Homo sapiens: one gene and its partners. The protein of the gene in region 2 interacts with the protein of the main gene of each other region in a pairwise test. Each region holds a gene or a part of one and is shown on either strand. Other genes may lie near its edges. The genes, in order: ATL1, PPT1 and ASB3.

Evidence for each region.
Region 1: the proteins of PPT1 (region 2) and ATL1 interact in binary tests that used the Homo sapiens proteins (3 or more experiments, as listed by UniProt).
Region 3: the proteins of PPT1 (region 2) and ASB3 interact in binary tests that used the Homo sapiens proteins (3 or more experiments, as listed by UniProt).

What each region holds. Positions count from the first base shown.
Region 1 is NC_000014.9:50,626,135-50,629,890, reverse strand, and holds part of ATL1 (atlastin-1), read right to left. Parts: intron 1,861-3,756; coding exon 1,429-1,860; intron 1-1,428.
Region 2 is NC_000001.11:40,095,356-40,099,111, reverse strand, and holds the start of PPT1 (palmitoyl-protein thioesterase 1 isoform 1 precursor), read left to right. Parts: upstream 1-1,859; 5' UTR 1,860-1,873; coding exon 1,874-1,997; intron 1,998-3,756. UniProt on the Homo sapiens protein: Has thioesterase activity against fatty acid thioesters with 14 -18 carbons, including palmitoyl-CoA, S-palmitoyl-N-acetylcysteamine, and palmitoylated proteins. In contrast to PPT2, PPT1 can hydrolyze palmitoylated proteins and palmitoylcysteine.
Region 3 is NC_000002.12:53,675,351-53,679,106, reverse strand, and holds part of ASB3 (ankyrin repeat and SOCS box protein 3), read left to right. Parts: intron 1-3,756. UniProt on the Homo sapiens protein: Probable substrate-recognition component of a SCF-like ECS (Elongin-Cullin-SOCS-box protein) E3 ubiquitin-protein ligase complex which mediates the ubiquitination and subsequent proteasomal degradation of target proteins. Recognizes TNFRSF1B.

The DNA of each region.
Region 1 (3,756 bases), on a different chromosome or scaffold from region 2:
GAACAGATACTCCTGCAGATTTTTCAGTTTAGATTACATATTTTATCAGAATCTTTGAAGAACTCAATTCTGTATTCCTCATAGGTTTTAGCATAACATAAGTCTAGGAGGGTTTTGACATTGACCTCAACCCCTCTTAAATCTTTTGTGGTTGAGGGACTATTTCAGAAAGTGGCTCAGAGGATCCAGTTTTTACTTCATTCATTTCCCATTGTGCTACCACTAGTTTATCTCAGCTAGATCCTTCAAAGGCACGTTACAATTATGTTATAAAGTATATATAAGTAGGGTTTTTTTTTTTTTTTTTGGGAGATGGAGCTTCACTCTTGTTGCCCAGGCTGGAGTGCTGTGGTGCCATCTCGGCTCAGTGCAACCTCCGCCTTCTGGGTTCAAGCGATTCTCCTGCCTCAGCCTCCCGAGTAGCTGGGATTACAGGCATGCGCCACTATGACTGGCTATTTTTGTATTTTTAGTAGAGACGGGGTTTCTCCATGTTGGCCAGGCTGGTCTCAAACTCCCGACCTCAGATGATCCGCCCACTTTGGCCTCGGAAAGTGCTGAGATTACAGGCGTGAGCCACCGCACCTGGCCATAAGTATGTTCTTAATGCTGGAAGAATTGTAGCTATTACCTGCTGCCTACAGGTACAGAGACAATCTGAAGTAATCTGATACTGCTTTTGGAAGTTTTTAACTAAAAAAGAGAATGATATGACAACTTATGATAGTGGTTCAGATAGCTCCTAACAAAGCTAATGCTAATCAAATCATAGGTTGTAAATATGAGATAATGTTAACACAAGTCATAATTAGCTAAATAAAAGCTGTTGTCTCTTACAACTTTTAATAGATATAACATTTTTAGAATAATAAAAAGTAGGCTGGGTGGCTCACGCCTATAATCCCAACGCTTTGGAAGGCTGAGGCGCGCAGATTGCTTGAGGTCAGGAGTTTGAGACCAGCCTGGCCAACATGGTGAAACCCCGTTTCTACAAAAAATACAAAAACTTAGCTGGGGATGGTGGTATGCACCTGTAGTCCCATCTACTCGAGAGGCTGAGGCACAAGAATTGCTTGAGCCTGGGAGGCGGAGGTTGCAGTGAGCTGAGATCACGCCACTGCACTCCAGCCTAGATGACAGAGCAAGACTGCCCCCCTACCCAAAAAAAGAAAAAAAAGTATATATACTACTAAACTGATGTATATTTTTTTAAATGCTGAAATGTTAACTGGAAAATAGTTGTGTAGGACTTCACATTTTACACAGTATTATATAGTTAGTTGCTTGTATCTGGGCAGGTCATAACATTCTTGATGACTGGGGCCCAATTCCTGTTGATCTGTATTTCCAACATCTAATGCAGTGGCTGGCACATGGATGACATTCAAATGTGTGCTGAATTTAGTTGTGAATTAAAGGTGTTCTTACCTGGTCCCACAGAGCTGCAGCCACCTGGTCTATTACAGCTCCCAGCTCTCGGTATTCTCCAGAGTACCGGATATATGCCCAAGTGCACAGGGTGATAAGGGTCAGTCCCATTATCATATTGCATAGGCTAGCTATGATGTCCAAACCAATGAATCCAGTCACACCAGCAATCACATATGTGATAAAGATGACTACAAACAGTGTGGCTGGGGTACGAGCTGCATGGAAGATATTTTTGCTATCATTGTGCTTGATATATTGGATGTAAAGTTCATCTATTTCACTCTCCAACTGCTGCAGGTAACGCCGGCTAAATTCTTCCCCACCCATCTTCTTCACCCCTCGGAATAGCTTCACAGATTCTTCCTTAAGTTGCAGGTGTTTGGTCTGCAAGTCATTTGGGGCCAGAAATGGTTTGTCACCACCACAAATCTGTATCAGATAGAGAAGTATTTGTTTATGCAATGCAGAGTAAAATTGGCAACTGTATCAAAATTTTTCACTTAGCTAGTTGAGTTTGTTAGAATACGTTAATAATCAGGAGCCTGCATATATGTTTTGTCAGCCCACATCTTTCCACCCCCTATCCACGAGGCATGACTATAAATGGGACTGGTATTTTATAGGTGGCTTAAAATCATTTTAAATTTTTCTCTTTTTGACATGGAAAATAATATTTATCACTTAATCCAAGTCCTTCAAGATGAAAAGACGTGTGACACAACATGAAGTGCAAACTGAGTTCATTCACAGAATGAATCCAAATCTAAGAAAACTACGTATATCCAAATTCTAGGAAATCTAACTACACTGAAGTCATGTTAACCAATGAGGTTTAATAAACAATGATCAATGCTATAAAGCTCTCAAAGTAAACTGTGAAATACATTCTTTAGCAGTTTTACTGATTTTTATTTGAATGGAGCCAATTGAGTATTTTCTTCCAGAAACTAAGTTAGGAGTATATTAAATGTTCTTGAATAACATTTTCAATTTTTTGAAAAGTTACAAGGGTAATCTCAGTTAACCATACCATTCACTTTGGTTACAGGCATGCCTCAGAGATAATACATGTTTGGTTCCAGACCACTGCAATAAGCAAGTCACATGATTTTTTTTATTTCCTAATTCATATAAAAGTTATGTTTACATTATGTAGCAGTCTAGTAAAGTGTGCAGTAGCATATCTAAAAACCATGTACATAATTTAAGAACACTTTATTGCAAAAAATGCTAAGGATCATCTGAGCCTTCAGCACATCAATCTTTTTGCTGGTGGAGGCTCTTGCCTCGATGTCGATGGCTGCTGACTGATTAGGGTGGTGTTGCTGAAGGTTGAGGTGGCTGTGGCAATTTCTTAAAATATGACAACAGTAAAGTTTGCCATATTGATAGACTTCCTTTCATGAAAGATTTCTCTGTAGCCTGGGATGCCATTTGACAGCATTTTACTCATAGTAGAACTTCTTTAAAAATTGGAGTCAATCCTCTCTAACCCTGCCAATGCTTTATCAACTAACTTTATTTCATATTTTAAAGCCCTGGAAAGGAAAAGAGTAGGGGGAAGGGGATGAAGAGAGGTTGATTAATGGGTACAAATAAAGCAGTTAGAAGAAATAAGACAGTGTTCAATAGCTCAGTAGGGTGACTGTAATTAGCAATAATCTACTGTACATTTCAAAATGGCCAGAAGAGAATAATTCGAATGTTCCTAGCATAAAGAAATATTAAGGTGATAAATACCACACTTTCCCTGATTTGATCTTTACACATTATATGGATGTATCAATTTATCATATGTACTCCAAAAATATGTACATCTATTATGTACCAATAAAAAATATTCTAAACCCTTTGTTGTCATTTCAACACTGTTCACAGCATCTTCGCTAGGAGTAGATTCCATCTCCAGAAACCACTGTCTTTGCTTATCCATAGGAAGCAACTCCTTATCCGTTAAGAGAATACAAAATTGAGTCACATCTTCAGGCTCCACTTTTAAGTTCTCTTGCTGTTTGCACCACACATGCACTTCCTTCCTCCACTGAAGTCTTGGACCCCTCTCAAAGTCATCCAGAAGGGTTGGTATCAACTTTTTCCACATTCTTGTTGATATTTTTGCCTCCTATAAACCACAGATTCTCTTCATGGCATCCAGAATGGTGAATTTCTCCTGGAAGGTTTTCAATGTACTTTGCCCAGATCCATCAAAAGAATCACTATCTATGGCAGCTATAGCCTTACAAAATGTATTTCTTATTAACTTTTGAAAGTCAAAATTACTCCTTGATCCTGGGCTGTAGAATGGATATTGTGTTAGCAGGCATG
Region 2 (3,756 bases):
CACCCTCTGCCTCCTGGGTTCAAGTGATTCTCCTGTCTCAGCCTCCTGAGTAGCTGGGATTACAGGCACCCACCACCATGCCCGGCTAATTTTTTGTATTTTTAGTAGAGATGGGGTTTCATCATGTTGGCCAGGCTGGTCTCAAACTCCCAACCTCAGGTGATCCACCTGCCTCAGCCTCCCAAAGTGCGCCCAGTGGATTCTGCATTTTAATCGACTTTTCAACTAACAACTTACCTCTAGTCCCAATGGCATGGAATAGAAGAGATTACAGACCGTGGGTTTGTAATCGACTTTTCTTTTACAACATATTAAGGGCATTTTTCATGTCACTTTATGTAAATTTACCTCATTTTTCTTTTTTGAGAGAGACAGGGTCTCACTGTTGCCCAGGGCAACAGCGAGATCATAGCTCAGTGCAATGGCGAGATCATAGCTCAATGCAGCCTTGAACTCCTGGGCTCAAGTGATCCTCCCACCTTAGCCTCCCCAGTAGCTAGGATTACAGGCACATACCACCACCCCTGGCTAATTAAAAAAAAATTTTTTTTTTGTAGAGATGGGGTCTTGCTATGCTGCCTGGGCTGTACTCTCTTTTTATTTATTTTTTATTCTTATTTTTTGAGACAGAGTTTTGCTCTTGTTGCCCAGGCTGGAGTACAATGGTATGATCTCAGCTTACCGCAACCTCTGCCTCCCGGGTTCAAGAGATTCTCCTGCCTCAGCCTCCTGAGTAGCTGGGATTACAAGTATGCGCCACCACACCCGGCTAATTTTGTAATTTTAGTAGAGACGGGATTTCTCCATGTTGGTCAGGCTGGTCTCGAACTCGCTACCTTAGATGATCTGCCCACCTCAGCCTCCCAAAGTGCTGGGATTACAGGAGTGAGCCACCGCGCCCGGCCCTATACTCATTTTTTATAAAACTGGCCTCATATTATTCCATTGTATAGTGGATACACTCTAATTTCTTTATAAATTATTTAAACTATTTTTTGATGTTTTGTTGAAAAAAAACTTGAGCAGGGAACTGATATTATGAAGGTGGATTGAGGGATGAATGTGGCAATAGAGCATAAAATGAATTAAAGAGGAGAGAATGGAAAAGGAAATGGTTGATGAGAGACCCTTGAAATAATCCAGCTGAGATTAGGCCAGTTAGTGGCCATGGGTTTCCCCCTCACTCTTATGCATCCAACATATGCTTTCGTCCGTCTTGAAGTCCCGACATTTCTAGAAAACACAGTTGTCTTTCTCCTCTCTACCTTAGCTCATCTCAGTCCTTCTGAATTTCATCTTTGCTTGTTGAAATCCTACCTCTCCTTCAATATCCAGAACAAACCCCACACCCTGCCATGATTGGTCCTGGCTGGAAACCGTCCCTCCTTCTTTCTTCCTTCCTCTGTGCATGTTTCTTGCAAAGGCAGTACAGGGCAGTGGTGAAGAGCAACGACTTTGGAACCACCAATTTGCTATCTCTGTGACCTTGGGCACCTTACTCAGTGCCAATTCGCAGTGCCTCAGTGTCCTCACCTGTCAGGGGGAGAAGTGCATACAGCATTGTTATGAAGAGTGAATTAGTTAAAGGTTGTAAGAATAGTGCCTGATAGCATCTGATCAGCACTGAATATATGTTAGCAATTATTTTGATTCACCGCAGAGGGCGGTCTACGAGAGCGCAGAGCCCCACTCGGCCAGCGGGGTCTGGCGGGGGACCTGTCGCGCTGAAAGCTCCAGGGTAGGGCCGACGCCCATCAGGCTGGGCATCCGTTCGGGATGCGCAGGTTGCGATCTGCAACCGGCGGCGCCACGCCCAGGCGGGCGGAGCGCGGTTCCCGGAGTCTCGCGCCCGCGGTCATGTGACACAGCGAAGATGGCGTCGCCCGGCTGCCTGTGGCTCTTGGCTGTGGCTCTCCTGCCATGGACCTGCGCTTCTCGGGCGCTGCAGCATCTGGACCCGCCGGCGCCGCTGCCGTTGGTGATCTGGCATGGGATGGGTGAGTGAGTGAGAAATTTAAAAGGGTTTGGCGATTCTCTCTCTTCCTAGCCTGGGTTCGCATCTGCAAAATGCGGGTGTAGAGGGCGAGGACGTGGTCCCACAGCACGCGGCTGCCTCGACATTTTAGGATTTGAAGGATCTGCATTGGAAAGAGAGAAGGGGAAGGAGCCGTCCCCTTCACTGGAAAGAGAGAAGGGGAAGGAAAGAGAGAGCCGCGCACGGCGTTGAAGTTTTACATGCTGTCCTTGATTAATCCTTACAGTAGTGGCGTCAGGATGCAGCATCTCTCACTTGGTCAGGCTAGGTGAGCTGCGGCTGGCTATATGACTGGCGCATCTACCCTTTTATTTATTCCTTCACACATTGAACAGAGATTTGTTAGGCACCTACAGTTCATTTACAAATTGAGTAACCCTTATCTGAAATGCTTGGGACTGGGAAGCATTTCGGATTTTTTTTTTTTTAATATTTGCATATATACAAGAGATCTGGGGGGTGGGACCCAAGTGTAAACAGGAAATTTATTTATTTTTCATATACACCTTATACACATAGCTGGAAGGTAATTTTATGCAATATTTTAAATAATTTTGTGCAACCCATCACATGAGGTCAGGTGTGGAATTTTCCACTTGTGGCATCATGTCTGCGCTGAAAAACTTTCAGATTTTGGGTTTCCCATTTTCAGATTAGGATGCTCAACCTATATTCATTTAACACAGTTATTGAGCACCTACTAGGTGCTGAGGATACAGTAGGGAACTAAACAGACTAAATTCTTTGTTCTTTTGGAACCTACTCTCCAGTAGGAGAAGCAGATTATAAAGAAATTAACAAGTAAAACATAACATATCAAATGGTGATATGTGCAACAGAGAAAAATATAGTAGGGTGTAGGATAAAAACTGGAGGTGGGGGCTTGCACTTTTAATAAAGCAAAGTTGGGAAAGAATTCATTGAAAAAGTGACATCTGAGTACAAAACTGAGGTAGATGAGGACAGTTGCCATTTGGCTGTCTGGTAGAAGGAACAGTAAATGGGAAAGCCCTGATGTGGAAGTATGTCTGGTGTGTTCAAGGGACAGCATTCAGATCAGCGTGGCTGGAAATGAGTAAGCAAGGGGAAGAAGTTAGGAGTTTAGTTTGGAAGGGAGGGGCAGGTACAGAAGTTATTGGGCCTAGTAAGACTAATGCAGGGACTTTGGCTAGAGTGTCATGGGGAACTTTTTGAGCAGATGAGTGACATGATCTGACACATTTTTAAAGAATCACTTTAGTTGCTGTATTAAGAATAGATCGTAGGGCGTCATGGATGGTCACAGGGAGACAGGTTAGGAAACTATTGCAATAATTTAAACAAGAGATGATGACTTGGAACTGTAGAGTAACAGTAGAGGTGTTGAGAAGTGGTCAAAGTTTGGATAGATTTTGAAGGTGGATTGCTAACAGATCAGACTTGGAATAAGAGAGAAAGAAAGGAGCCAAAGATGACTCCACAGGTTTTGGCCTGAACAATTGGAAGGGTGAAGTTTTCATTTTACCAAGATGGGGAAGCCTGTAGGACAAGCTGACTTAGGGTGGGGGAAAGATCAAGAGTCTGCTTTTGGGCTTACTAAACTTGAGATCCTCATGAGACACCCAGGAGATGTTGTAGAGGCATTTGGAGTGTGGAGTCTAGGACAGAGATACGGGTTGGAGATTTAAGTAGGGAGTCTTCGGCATACAGCTAGTAGTTAAAGGCTAGGTGAGACCACCTAG
Region 3 (3,756 bases), on a different chromosome or scaffold from region 2:
GTGATGGGCCCATGGAATCCAGTCTAGATAGGAAAAGAAATGAGAAAGGATGGGACCTGAAGGATGAGATAGGGGAGGAGTTGGGACCTGAGGTCTCCATGATGTTAAAGATTGGGTGTGGCAATAAGGGAGAGCAAACTCTGGAAGAATAGAAACTGGTGTCTGTTGGAGTTTAAAGACAGAAGCGTGGATCTGAAGTGGTGCACAAGAAGTATAAGAATGCTAACATTGCCCCCCAGACCTTGCAACAGGTGTAGCAAGGCATGGAAAATGAGAAGATTGTATTTTCAAAATTGGCCAAGGAAGTAATTTCCTTGCAAGAATCAGGCTTTTGTGAGGAGAAGAGGGGGAGGCAGAATGTTCTATACAGAGTTCATGGTAGAATGGGGATTCCCGAGGACTTATCTCTCTTCCCATCCTCCACTTAGCATACATGGCCCAGTGCCTTGTACCTACATATCCGTAGGGGTTACATCAGGATTTCCCAAAGTCGGGTGCATGGGGTTGACTGTGCCACCACATTTGTGGTGTGCTATAGTGAATTTTTGTTCATATGTGATTGCTTAGTGCACCTATAATGATATTTTGTAGTTTTAATTTAACCACTTCTCACAAATTGGTCAAGTGGCTTAAAACGATTTCTGTAAAGAAGTAGTATTTTCTGTAGATAATATTAAAAGTGCAAGCACAAGTGAACCAACATAATCATCGTAGAGCTGCATTCTCTTGTTATTTACCAGGCATGTTATGTGATAAAAATGATGACCACCTGGGTTACCGGGTTGAAGGCGGGATGGTTGTGGGGAAATGAAAAGATGTAGGTCAAAGGGTATAAAGCTGCAGTTTTGTAGGATGAGGAAGTTCTAGAGATCATGAGAACTATAGTTAAAAATACTGTGTTGTGTACTGGTAATTTACCAAGATAGTAAATTTTAGGCACACACATGCACACACACACACACACACCAGCAAGGTAACTATATGAGATGATGGGTATATTAATGTTTGTTTGACTGTAGTAATCACTTCATTATGGTAGGTATATCAACATAAGCATACAAAACATCACATTGTACACTTTAAATATATACAATAAAATAATAAAAATTTTAAAAAGCTAAAAAGAGCTAAAATAAAAATGACTACCACCTAATTGCAACTGACAAATATAAAATTATCAAGAAAATATTTAAAATATAGTCTCACCTTTACTTTAACAGTGAGCCTTGTCCTTAACATGTAGTGTGCCTTGAGATAATTAGCTAATGGAAGAACCATACTCAGCAAGACACTCTAATCTACACATTCGGAACATGAGGGCAAACCCTGTGATTTTTTTTTCTCAATGTTTTAAGTCCTAGGATGCCCAGTGCATTATTTTTTACAAAATTTACTAAACATAATGATAAAGGCTTAGAACTCTTTTTGAGTTTTCTTATTCAATAGCAAAAGACAAAAAGTCACAGACCATTGGGGAAACTCATGTTCCTCCTGCCACAGTAAAACTGGCTGAAATAATATGAGGACAAAACAAAATGCATTCCTTATTAGCAAATGTTGTTAAAGGAGCATAGAAAACACTGCTAAAGCATTAAAGCAGAGTTTTTTTTTAAAAAAAACCTGCAGATAGAAAGTTTGGTGTACTAAGTTGGAAGGAGATTTGTGGTATTTATAACATGTTACAACTTAGGGTATTTGTTAAGATTCTCTTTCAGTGAGAGAATAGGCAATTTTTTAAGAGCTGCTAAAGGAAAAATGCACCAGAAAAGAGATACAGTGAGGTGTATTAACAACGGGGATACAGTCTGAGAAGTGCTTTGTTAGGCGATTTTGTCATTGTGCAAATATTATAAAGTATTCTTATATAAACTAGATGGTAGAGCCTACTACACACCTGAGGCTACATAGTATAGCCTATTGCTCCTAGGCCACAAACTTGTACAGCATGTTACTGTGCTGAATACTATAGGCAGTTGTAACACATTGGTAAGTATTTGTGTTTCTAAACATAGGAAAAGTACAGTAAAAATACAGTATAGGCCGGGCGCGGTGGCTCACACCTGTAATCCCAGCACTTTGGGAGGCTGAGGCGGGTGGATCACCTGAGGTCAGGAGTTTGAGACCAGCCTGGCCAACATGGCGAAATCCTGTCTCTACCAAAAATACAAAAATTAATCGGGCATGGTGGCAGGCGCCTGTAATCCCAGCAACTCGGGAGGCTGAGGCAGGAGAATTGCTTGAACCTGGGAGGCAAAGTTGCAGTGAGCTGAGATCGTGCCACTGCACTCCAGCCTGGTGACAGAGTGAGACTCCGTCTCAAAACAAAACAAAACGAACAAACAAAACAGCACAAAAGATGAAAAATGGTAGATCTGTATAGGGCACTTACTAGGAATGGAACTTGCAGGACTGGAAATTGCTCTGGGTGATATCAATGAGTGAGTGGAGAGTGAATGTGAAGGCCTCAGACATTACTGTATGCTACTGTATACTTTAACGCCATATACTTAGGCCACACTAAATTTATAAAAAAATTAGTTGATGTTATGACACCTGTGACATCACTAGATAATAATAATTTTTCAGCTCCATTATAATCTTGTGGGGCCACCATCGTATATGTGGTCCGTCGTTTACTAAAATATCCTTACGCAGTGTATGCCTGTATTGGCAACAGTAATGGCTTATTTAACAGAATGATGTGTTTTGGAAAAGGTGTGTAAGAATGACCATTGAAGGAGTGGTGGCTGCTTTTCTCCAAATGTAAGGTAATGGAGATAACATGAAATGAGTTTACTACATCATTCATAGGCTAGTATAGGAGAAGAGTTGAATCCAGAATTGCACGAAGTAGTATCACTGTGGATACTTTCCTAAAGCATGACCTTTAAAATATATTAGAGTCTTTGCAGTACTTTATAATGAGGTGGGAGTGACCATAGTTATTGTTTATACATCCATAGTTTTGCTCATTGTCTGTGATACAATATATAAAAGAACCCTTAAGCTCAAAGGTAAATTATGTGCTTTTCTTTTACAAAAATACAGCTTTTCCAATTTTCTTGAGCTTTTTCTTTCTTGGTGATAAATAGCTATGCAACCTACCATGTATTTTGTAAAAATTCTGTTGATTTAGGGAAGAGATGACATTTTAACTGAGTGAGAAGTAACTGCCTTCTGAAAGGAACTCCCCTCCATGCCCTGCAATGCAGGTTAAAGCCAAGCAATGAAAGAAACTTTTGCTATGTGGAGATGATTTTGAAAATAGGTACTAGGAAATATTTTTATTGTTACGTTATTTTCTTGTGAAAAGTAGTATATATCACCTGGAAAAACTCTTTCATTGACATACTTAAAACACTTGGAAATAGTTCCCCTTTGTTTTGAACTCCATTTAGTAAAAATGCAAAACTTTCTGATTAGCTTATAAACTGATTGATATCAGGAAAAAATAGAAATTTACCAGATGAATTTTGACAATAACTTTTTCATAATTGCTAGATAGGCTAGATAGAATCCTGATTTAGTTCAGCTAAGCCACAGTGTACTTCTCCCATTTAGACCTTATTTCAGCTACATCCATGTATCAGAATAAACTGGGCTTAGAACCAACTCTTTGAATTGCTAGATCACTAAGAATTACATTAATAAAGCCTAGTCAATCACCTTGTTCTTGTTAAAATATTAATATTTAAAGGAGTCTTATACCTTTAAAAATGAAATTATTTAAAGTATATATCTTATTTTATATTGGCT